Regions from separate parts of the Homo sapiens genome. Here region 1 is linked to region 2. The links come from fine-mapping of genetic effects on gene expression. A gene starts in region 2. The other region holds a variant in brackets. All regions are shown on one strand. Distances are from middle to middle.

Region 1 (5,379 bases), 22 kb after region 2:
AAGACTGGTGGGAACATCATGGAAGTAGAGGTCAGGAGGGCTGATTTGACCCTTGACTCCTGGTAAACTCAAGACCAATCTGAACTCATTGTATGATTTTTAATTTACCTCTAAGGAGTAAGAAACAGTGGAGTGGAAGAAGCATTGTAGTCAGGCAGACCTGGCTCGGGAGCCTGGCTCCAACACTAACCAACTAAATAATCTTGGGAAAGTATTTCCCTTCATCTGAGTTATATTTTCCATCTTTAAAATGAGAATGACAATTCCTGCCTTACAGGCTGATTATAAGAGTTAAATGGGGTGATGTCTATAATGCCTGGGGTAAGACCTTGGCAGATGTGGCGTTGCTTTCTACCTTTTATTTTTATTTTTATTTTTTTACTAAAAACTAGAAGAGGCAAGGGGAAAAAAACTACAGCACCCAGTGTTTCCAGTCAGTCTCCCATCCAAGTACTAACCAGGTCTGATCCTGCTTACCTTTTGAGATCAGACAAGATCAGGAATTTTCAGGGTGGTATGGCCATGCTTCCTTCCTTTTTAAGGCTAGACATGGCTTCCTGATTTCAGTGCTTGTGGTAGGTAGAATCTAAAGTTGCACCCTCAAGATTCCCATCTTCTGATTATTGAATCAAACACTAAGCTAGGCAATGCTGTGAAGGGATTTTGCAGAAAAATTAAAGACCCAAGTTAGTTGACTTTAAGATTAGAGATTATCTCTAATTTTAAGGTCTAATCTCTGGCCCAGACCTAGTCAATTAGGTCCTTGAAAAGCAGAGTTTTCTTCTGGTTGGTAGAGAAGAATTGATTAGAGAGATTCAAATGATGAGAAGGATCCAACTTGCTATTCGTAGCTTTGAAGATGGTTGAGGCCAAGTGCCAAGGAATAAGGGTGGCATCTAGAAGTGACAGCCAGTAAAGGAGCCTCAGTCCTACAACTCCAAGGAAATGACTCTACTACAACCAGGGAGCTTGGGAGAGGACAGTGCATCCCAAATGAGAACTACAGCCCTGGCTGACATTTCAATCTTGGCCTGGTAAGACCCGGAGCAAAGAACCCAGATGCACAATGCCAGACTTCTGACCCACAGATAATTTGTTACGTAGCAAAGGATAGCTCATACAGCGCTTAATGTGTCTCCATGATTCTAAACTGAGCATCCCTCCAGTGGAATCTGGCCAGAGAGGCATGATCCTTTCAGATACTACTGAGTCTTGGAACTGTAGAACTTTGGAATGGAAAGAACTCTATTTATCATTGGTACCAAACTTCTGATTTCATAGATCAAAAGTAATGAGGTCAGATAGGATAATACAATGCATTAGGGGCAAGTCTGGGACTTACAATCCAGGACTCACTTCAGGAGCCCCACGTCTTCCCTGAGGACTGGCCACTGAGACTTTGAGTACTTTCCAACAATACTTCTTGTCATTAATGACCCCCTCCAGGAATGGACTGAAGCTAAGAAGAGTATGTGGTTCCTAATTTGGAGTGTACATCAAAATCATCTATGCATCTTTCAGAAAATATAGACTCTAGGCTGAATCAGAATCTCTAGAAAGTGCATCCTTGGGACTCCACTTTTTAAAAAGAACCCCAGGTGGTCCTAAAGCAGGCAGTGGGCTCCAGGAGATAGGCTGTTACTTGGGAACCATTGTTCTAGGTTTAGGCAGAGACAGAGTTCGGCAAATCAAACTGGGTTTGAGTTGTTGTAGCTCCTTTCCCCATTGTCAGCTTGAACTCTCACTTATTAATAAAAACCCTCCTCCGTTTCTTGTTGGCTCTTCTTAACCACTTACTTGTGTGTATAAGCATACCTCATGGGTTTCTCTGCATCTACTGGGGATGCTTCTCAGAGATCTGGTCTCAGCTGTCTTCTGACATTACTTGACACATACTTCCTGGGTAATCCCACTCGTTCCCACGATCCCAACTATGATTCCCATCTCTTCCTCCAGACTCATCCTCTATTCCAAACTAAAGACTTTTATTTCGACCTGCCTGGGAAAAACACCATCTGGGCATCTCAGAAGCACCTCTGTTCCAACATATTTAAAACAGAACTATTATCTTCTTATGCCCAAGCACTACCTTACTTTCTATTCCGCATCTTGACATTTGGCATCAACAGGTCCAGTTTGTTATTAGAATCCAGAGATTCACTCCTTCCTCTCCGCCACCCCAGTATCCCATCACTCATGGACTTGGGTCAATTCTGTCTCCTAAACCTCTCTCCAAACCCTGTCTCCTGCCTCTCTTTACTACCACTCCCTCAGATCAGCACCTGATCTCACCCCTTGTCTCTTCTCAACTACTGCAGCAGCCTCCTCACTGGTCCTCTCCCCTCAGGCTCATGCCTAGTGACTTATTAATTAAAAAACAATTAAACTTGCGTGTGTGTGTGTGTGTGTGTGTGTGTGTGTGTGTGTACAGTGGGAATGAATGT[A/G]ATCACCCAAGAATTATGTGTTGAGTGATATCATAAGACAGATGAGACCAGATCTCTGGGGATCATCCCTAGTAGATGCAAACTATATATATAGTCTCCTTACATATATAAAAATATGGAAAAGTTAGGGAAATAATTTGGGGGGAGCAAGTAAGGAAAGTATGTGGAGGGCCAGGGTCGTGAGCAGGGGTAGCTTTCTGTGGCCCCAAATCCACAGTAGAGGGGGCCTCATCTGACACTGGCACTGGCCTCATGTCTAACCCTCATCCCCAATAATGCTTTCTAAGGAAGAATGGCTGCAGCTTTTTTGAACTCACGTTTGATCTTCTTGGTCAGCATTGCAGAAGTCCACTCCAAAGCAAGGGAGAGAAGCAGCAGGAAAGCTACATTCCTCCAGGAGAAGGTGGGGCTATGGAGAGGAAAGTGCCTGTATGGATGAGAAGAGAGGTGGGAGTTAAGCACAATCCAGAGAGAGACACAAAGTGTGTGCAGGGGAACCTTAGAGATGATCCACCAGGTCCCTTTAGTTCACAGGTAAGAAGACTGACACCAGCATGGGGAAGGAGTCTGTCTGAGGTCAGATGGTGAGTTAAGGTGTGTCTAAGACATTCCGTTTCAGGACCCTGACCAATCCCCATACCCTGCCATGGTGCTGTACCTTGTGCCACACAGACACTTGCCTATTGTCTTGTTCCTGGGTAAAAGGCCACACTTGAATGATCACAAGGATTTATTTGGAACAGTTGCAGAGCTGGTTTGCCCACAGTCACTCCAGGGGCAACCCCAGACACTAGTGAGCATCTTTTCTTTGCTCCACTGATGACAGAAATGGATGGTATGAGATTTCCCAGAGGGCCTGGGCACACTCTACTGGATCTTGGTGCACCAGAAGCAAGAACAATCTCAGATGACCTTGGGTTAACAGAGAAATTCCTTTTATTCCTTCTGTGACTATCCAAGCCTAGGATCTTATGATACTCCCAGACAACCAGATGAACAGATGAGCTTCCCCCGCCTACTCAAGCCCCCATTTCCCATATGTGTCTTCATGATCCTTATGTATTTTTTATTTTAAGGTGTGAAAAACTAATAATCCTTTACTGTATTAACTCTTAGAGTGCATGCATTTCAAAAATGCAAGAGGTGGGTAGAGGGAGAAAGAGGAAGCAAGAGACAGAGAAAACATCTTTATGCCAAAATATACATCTGTATTGGTGGAACTTCCGATACTGAGAAAGCTATGAAGGTATCTTGGAATAGAGTATCTTCCAGAGTTCCTGAAGCCATACCATGTGGCTGCCTAAAAGTAAAGACTTGTGACAATTTATCTCCCCAACCTTTTTTGTTGGGGGAGTTCTAATCATGTATCCTCTTCAAATTTTACAATAGTGCCTATACTCTCTGGTCATGGAAATTATGACCCCAAACATAGTGATCTTGATTTTGGGCCTCGCTCAATCCCTTATAACAGCATATCTTGGATCCTCAATTTCCTCATCTGGAAAATGGGAATAATACAATTAACCTGGAAGCTTTGTTGTCATTGTGAGGATTAAGATGAGATAGCATGAAGATTTAATGAAGTGGTACGGAGTGGTAGGAAACGTAGCATTCAGAGTTAGACCTGAGTTCACATCCTGAATCCACCACTTATCGGCTGTGTGGCCTGGGTTCAGTCACTTCACTTCACTGAGCCTCAATTTGTCATAAAGGAAACAATAATAACACCTACCTCACAGACATGAGAATTACTTGAACTATTTTTGTAAAGCATGACAAGTGGCTTGTAAATCAGTGTTTATTGTATTTTAGCCAGTTAACAAATAATGAATGGCAATAGTGAATGCCAACAAATGTTCCTATTACCATTTTAGCTTTTGAGTTCCCTAGTTAGAGACTGTGTAAATCATTCCTTTAGTTCCCCTAAAAGATTAGCCAAAAGGCCCTCTGGTGCTTTAAATTTTTATTATCAAGTCACTCTATGGGTTTGAAATTTTACCCTCTAACCTGAAAACATCTATTAACCCAGTCTTGAGAATCAGTTAATCAGATTAGCCTGCAGTCAGTTAGAAGAAAGCAGATCTCGTGGGATGGAGGCAGGGGAGAAACACAGATTAATAGAATTGCCAAACATAATAGAGGATGTCCATTTATAATTTTAGCATAAGTATATCCCATGCAATATAAGGAACATAGTTCTACTAAAAAAGTATTTGATGTTTATCTGACATTCAAATTTAATTGGTCATCCTCTATTTTTATTTTCTAAATCTGGCAACTTTGACACAGAATGAATCCATTTTGGTTGGACTGGGGTTTGTTTGGGCAAGAGACTACAAAACACAGGTCTTATAGGTAACAAATGAGCATAATTGCAAGAGTTGCTCAGTGGGGGCTCTGAAGAACTAGGACAGACCTGGAATACTAGGACAGACCTGGAATACTAGGACAGACCTGGAATACACGGACACAAATGTGCTATATAAATAACACACTAGGTTCTGGGCACGGTGGCTCATGTTTGTAATCTCAGCACTTTGAGAGGCCAAGACAGGAGGATCACTTGAGCCCAGGAGTTCAAGACCCACCTGGGCATGGGCTGGGTGCGGTGGCTCACGCCTGTAATCCCAGCACTTTGGGAGGCCCAGGTGGGCGGATTATGAGGTCAGGAGATTGAGACCATCCTGGCTAACACGGTGAAATCCCGTCTATACTAAACAAAATACAAAAAATTAACCGGGCGTGGTGGCGGGTGCCTGTAGTCCCAGCTATTCGGGAGGCTGAGGCAGGACAATGGCGTGAACCCGGGAGGCAGAGCTTTCAGTGAGCCGAGATCGCCGCCACTGCACTCCAGCCTGGGCAATAGAGAGAGACTCTGTCTCAAAAAAAAAAAAAAAAACTTAGCCCAGCATGGCAGCGCACACCTGTGGTTCTA
Region 2 (5,379 bases):
CAATTTCTCTAGAAATCTGTGTATGCCTTATTTCTTGGTTCAGCAACAGCGAACCTATAGAGAGCTGCAATCCATAGGGATGCAACAAATGCTTAAACAATATGAAACCACAGATGCCTGGCTGGAAGGCCACACATTTGAGGTTTTATCAAAGCACTGAAAACCTAGTTATTGTCTTGAAAGGTATGTCAACCTAAAGTAACAAGATTCAGAAAATATCATTAAGTAGGGCATTTATTTGACCCCAAAACTTGAGGATGGCCACTTGGGAATACAGATTCAAGTTGCCCTGAATATACACTACCAGTTTCCTGTTTCTTGTCTCTTGCTCACTCTCTGCTTTCTAGCCTTTCTAGACCTGAACATCCTGCCTCCTGCCACAGAGCCTTTGCACATCCTATTATCTGGCCTGAAAGGCTATTTCTTCCCATTTTTGGTCTAAGTACTCATCTTTCAGATCTTAAATCATGGATCTCTTTCCCAGAAAAACTTTTCTGACCTTCCTGGCCACAATGAGCAAGTGGAACCCATCATGGGTGTCAGGGGCACCAATCAATATTTGTTGAATGAATAGAATGAACGAATGGTCCTTGATGATCTTCTTTAGAGCTCAATAATATGGGCAGAGAAGAAAGAGTGTAGGCGGTCTAAGGTGGTCAGGGAAGGCATCCTGGATTTATGTAGACAGAGAGGCCTAGAGAAAAAAGCCAGGAAATACAGATTATATACCTGTCTCTTATAGCTATCATATAACCTGACACAATGTTGGCATTTGATGAGACTTTGGTGACTACTTGGCATCTCGAGAATCACTGAAGAGTAGCCAAGAGACCATGTGGTCCATTATCCACACCTGTCTTATGGAAAGGGAAACTGAGGCCCAGAAAGGAAAACTACATTGTTCACATCACTTACCAAAATAGAGGAAGAAATGAAATAAAATCCATGTCTCCCAAGTCCAGGACTGGCAGATTTGTGTCAAGTAGAAGATGTACCTAAACTCTTGGTCAGAGACCAGCCATCAGTGAACTAGGAGACAGAGGTAGTGCAGTGCAGGTGGAGATAGGAGGTGAGGGCACTGGGTAATTTAGGAAGCATCTGAGTTACCTTTCTGAAGTCTAAACATTTCTTTCCACGGCTGAACGGGCAACACTTCATGTTTTCTGGGCAATCTCTGGGTTTGGTACACTGGTCTATTTCTTCCACTTCGCATTCCACTTTGATTTTGGGACACGGCTCTAAGGGAGGGGAAGATATATTCCCTCAAGGCCTTAAAGGAGCCAGTGCTCCCCCTCCCCGAGACCAGGGCACCCCTCCAGAGTTAGAGAACTTTGTTTCCACTTCACCTATCCCCAGAAGGTAGTGGCCCTCAGGGGGCTCAGGAATTTCACAACACTGCTCACATCCCCAACCCCATAACAACTCACCATCGGATGCCTAAACCAACCCCTACCCCCTACCCGCACCATCTATGAGATTCCTGAGAGAAAGACGCATTCCTCTAAGACTGTTCTGGTCACTCAGCCTTGCTGTGCTTGGTTGCTCCCCCAGGAGGTGCTGTGGCTCTCGATGATTGAGATTAACATTTCTGGCATCAGATAGCTGGGCTTTTGAATTCTGTGAGACGCTTGGTGTGCCAGGCACTCTCTCTGAGCCTTGATTTCCTCATTTGCCCATAGGGTTGCTTTGAAGACTAACCAGCAACACAGTTTGACAAGCCATCGTCAAACTGCCTGGGGCAATGTAACGTAACAATGAGTAATATGGATGAAGCACTTACTGTGAGCTGCCTTTTCTCCTTAATCCTCATTACAAATCTATGGGTAAGTACTCTTAATATTCACATTTTGTAAACAGAAGAATTGGAAGCATAAGGAGATTATGTGAATTTGCCCAAGATCACACAGCTACTCAGGGGTGGAGCCAGGTTTGAACCTACAATGTGTGGCTCCTGAGTGCTCACTTTCAACCACTAATTTTCAGTGCCCAGTACAGTTAGCTGCTAATTGTGAGTCTTCACATTTCAGCATTCCAAGGGACTTCTGGAGACCATTCTTTAACCCAAAGACCAGGGTCCTCTGTGGGTATGGGTGTGGGGGCTGCAATGAGAACATTTGGAAGTTGACACAGGTGGTGTTGTGGGGAGCAGCCTGTTTTTCTTGTGGGAGACTTCCTTGGGCTTACTACTCCTTCTTAGTTCATTTCATGAGCTCTAGGTCCAGGCACCTCCAGGAAGAACTCTTTGGAATGGCAGCAAGGAGTCACTTGCCACAGATTTGGATGCCTGTATTCACCAAGGGAGTCTCTTACCAAGAGACTTCAAATAGCTCCCCTCTTTCCCACCTGGAATTCCAGGCAGAGGTGGAGAAAATAATTTCTCAGCTGCAAAATTATTCTTTGTTCCTTCCTCCCCACTGAGTTTCCTTTCCCCATTGCAAGGACGGAGTTCCCAATACTTACTGCCAAGGATGCCTTCAGCGTGCCCAGGTTCCTGGATGTCCCCCAAAAGGATGAATGGTACCAGGATTGGCAGAAGTCCTGAGAGTCCCATTTTAGGAAGTACTGGCCTGGTTGATGGCACCAAAACTAAGAACTGCTCCTCAGCAGCTCCTACATCTGCACTTTGCCTGCCCCGGTGTGGCCCAGCACCTTAAGAGACAGCCCTGGAGACAAGCCAGCCAGACTCCCCGATCAGGAACACCAGATCCCTGAGGCCATCAGTGGGACTACCTGGTACCTACACTGGGGGATAGGTGGCTCCTAATCCTCAGCAATCTGAGGCTTTCTGGTCTACCAGGGAAAGAGGGCACATGTTGTCTTGGGCTTTCCAGGCTCCCTTAGCAGAAGGGGAGGTTTAACTCCAGAGTCTTCCATTTCCCAGGGGGAGTTTGCAGGTTAACAGTATGCTAGCTCTCTTCCTTCTTTCTAATTTCACTCTTCTCCTGACATGTCTATTCTTATGTTTTATTTTTCTCACTCTGTTTCTTCTCTTTTCTGTGCATCTGTATGTCTTTTACTCTGTGCCTGTCTTTTTCTCAGGGAGTCTCTGTCTGTCTGAGTCTCTTTCTCCCCGCCCTTCACTTCCCTCTCTCTTCTTTCGTATGTAAAGATCAGTTACATTTATCCTTTAAGTCGTTTGATTTTGCAACAGTAAATAACTTCTTTCATTACTTTGGGACTTCTCCAACTCTGTTCTCCGTTTTTCCCTGTTGTCACAGCTACAGCATTGGATTAAAAGTCACACCCTGAAGCATTAACGCTTGAGCATCTGTACCAAGTTTTATATCCTTGGTATAAGCCCGAAGGAGGTGAGGAGCCAGTTACCTGGGCATCAGTTCCATCTGGCAAAGGACTGTGGGTAATGGAAGCATTTCTGCAGGGTGGCAGCAGGGTGTGTGTGCAGCAAGGCATGTCATCAGTGGTGAGTGAGAAGTTCATTCCTTTTTATGGCCGAATAATAGCCAATGCACATTGACAGCCTCCTACCTCTAGCATCAGTCCCTAATTTTCTGCTGTGGGTTTTCTCTGGCCCCCAGGGAGCTTGTATAGCTTGCAAGTATAACAGTTTGAAAGAGCGAGGGATTTAGTATCCCTGGCATCCAGTGGGCGTTGGGAATCAGTGGACAAATAGCTTAGCTTTCCCATCACTGGAGACAGATTAAGAAAATTTGTGGTCTGATATCCAGAATCTACAAGGAACTTAAACAAATTTACAAGAAAAAAAACAAACAACCCCATTGAAAAGTGGGCAAAGGACATGAACAGACACTTCTCAAAAGAAGACATTTATGCGGCCAACAAACATATGAAAAAAAGCTCAACACCAGTGATCATCAGAGAAATGCAAATCAAAACCACAATGAGATACCATCTCATGCCAGTCAGAATGGTGATTATTAAAAAGTCCAGAAACAACAGATGCTGGTAAAGCTGTGGAGAAACATGAATGCTTTTACACTGTTGGGAATGTAAATTGGTTCAACCATTGTGGAAGAGAGTGTGCCAATTCCTGAAAGATCTAGAACCAGAAATACCATTTGACCCAGCAATCCCATTACTGGGTATACACTCAAAGGAATATAAATCATTCTTTTATAAAGATACATGCATGTGTATGTTCACTGCAGCACTATTTACAATAGCAAAAACATGGAATCAAACCAAATATCCATCAACGATAGGCTGGATAAAGAAAATGTGGTACATATATGCCATGGAATACTATGCAGCCATAAAAAGAAATGAGATCACGTCCTTTGCAGGGACATGGATGAAGCTGGAAGCCGTTATCCTCAGCAAAGTAACGCAGGAACAAAAGTAAATACCACATGTTCTCACTTGCAAGTGGGAGATGAACAATGAGAACACGTGGACTGTTGAGGGGGCAGGGGGAGGGAAAGCATCAGGATAAATAGCTAATGCATGCGGGGCTTAATACCCAGGTAATGGGTTGATAGGTGCAGCAAACCACCATGGCACAGGCTTACCTATGTAACAAACCTGCAGGTCCTGCACATGTATCCCGGAACGTAAAATAAAATAAAATATTTTTAAAAAGAAAATTTGTAAGCCTGTTTTACATGATTCTTTAAAAGGTCCCCAATAGGATTGAGCCACAGTAGTAACCAGCTCATAATAGACTCTTCTCTCTTCCCTTCTCTTCCCTGAATTACTCATCTCACTCCCCATCTTGTATGTCCTGGGAAATCTCTCAAACAAACTACCTGCACCCATGCCCTTTTCCCAGGGTTAGTTTCTAGAGGATCCAAACTAAGGCACTGTCCTTGGGCCCTTGCCTAAAAAGGGTTTTACAATCTTTTGTAGAAACAGAGGAAGATAACAATAACAATATTCCTGGAACTCTGAACTCTCAAAGTTCTGATTGTCTTCACTCCCTTGAATGATGTCACCAGAAGCCTCAATGATCCCTTACTCTGCAAAGTGTAATGTGCCAAAAAGATGTCAATCACTCAGCCTCAAGGCACAGGACTACATCAAGTACTTTACTGGAAAAAATTGAGAGTGACACAGGTATAAACTGGGAGTTCTAGAAGTTGGAGATAAAGGGGACATAAAGATGAAATCAAAACGGATGGATATTGTGCATCAAAAGAGCCAAAGATGGAGGAAGAGGAGGTAGATGCAAGCGTTCTGTTCTGGGAAGGGCTAAGATCTTGGAATGCTGAGAGTGAAACTGGAAGCCAGTCTGGAGCATCCGTCAGGTACAGGAACAGTACTCAGAGCATGAGCCACATTCTGGCAGTTCTTCCAGTGCATCCTTATCCAATCAGGGAAAGCCTGCAGAGAACGTAGGACAGAAACAGCTGAGCATCTTGGGTTCAGCTCATCTTTGGAGCTTGAAGTTATGTTTATACATCT

Alleles and levels. Positions count from the first base shown, and alleles are read on the strand shown. Sizes are in standard deviations (SD) of each study's normalised expression.
As copies of A replace G in region 1, the expression in lung of the gene that starts at base 2,626 in region 2 goes down (small effect, 0.33 SD a copy in GTEx).

What was found. PIP is the estimated chance that this variant, and not a neighbour inherited with it, causes the effect. A credible set is the group of variants that fine-mapping cannot tell apart.
Region 1: its variant is the best candidate, but not a certain one, in a credible set for the expression of WFDC6 in lung (GTEx, PIP 0.70).

The regions. Positions count from the first base shown.
Region 1 is chr20:45,559,349-45,564,727 of GRCh38, forward strand. WFDC8 (WAP four-disulfide core domain 8) reads right to left here. Exons shown (of 6, transcript NM_130896.3): 2 at 2,762-2,871. It also overlaps the pseudogene RNA5SP485. Among named protein-coding and RNA genes, the nearest start is that of EPPIN-WFDC6, 15 kb to the left of the region's middle. The variant A/G (reference allele first, on the strand shown) is at 2,445.
Region 2 is chr20:45,536,857-45,542,235 of GRCh38, forward strand. It overlaps WFDC6 (WAP four-disulfide core domain 6), which reads right to left and starts at 2,626. Exons shown (of 3, transcript NM_080827.2): 1 at 2,461-2,626; 2 at 1,108-1,238. The coding sequence starts at 2,551. EPPIN-WFDC6 (EPPIN-WFDC6 readthrough) reads right to left here. Exons shown (of 5, transcript NM_001198986.2): 4 at 1,108-1,238; 5 at 1-694. The coding sequence ends at 677. EPPIN (epididymal peptidase inhibitor) reads right to left here. Exons shown (of 4, transcript NM_020398.4): 4 at 3,770-5,298. The coding sequence ends at 5,288. LOC107987282 (a long non-coding RNA gene) reads left to right here. Exons shown (of 4, transcript XR_001754641.3): 3 at 1,680-1,823; 4 at 3,219-3,531. It also overlaps the pseudogene HSPD1P21.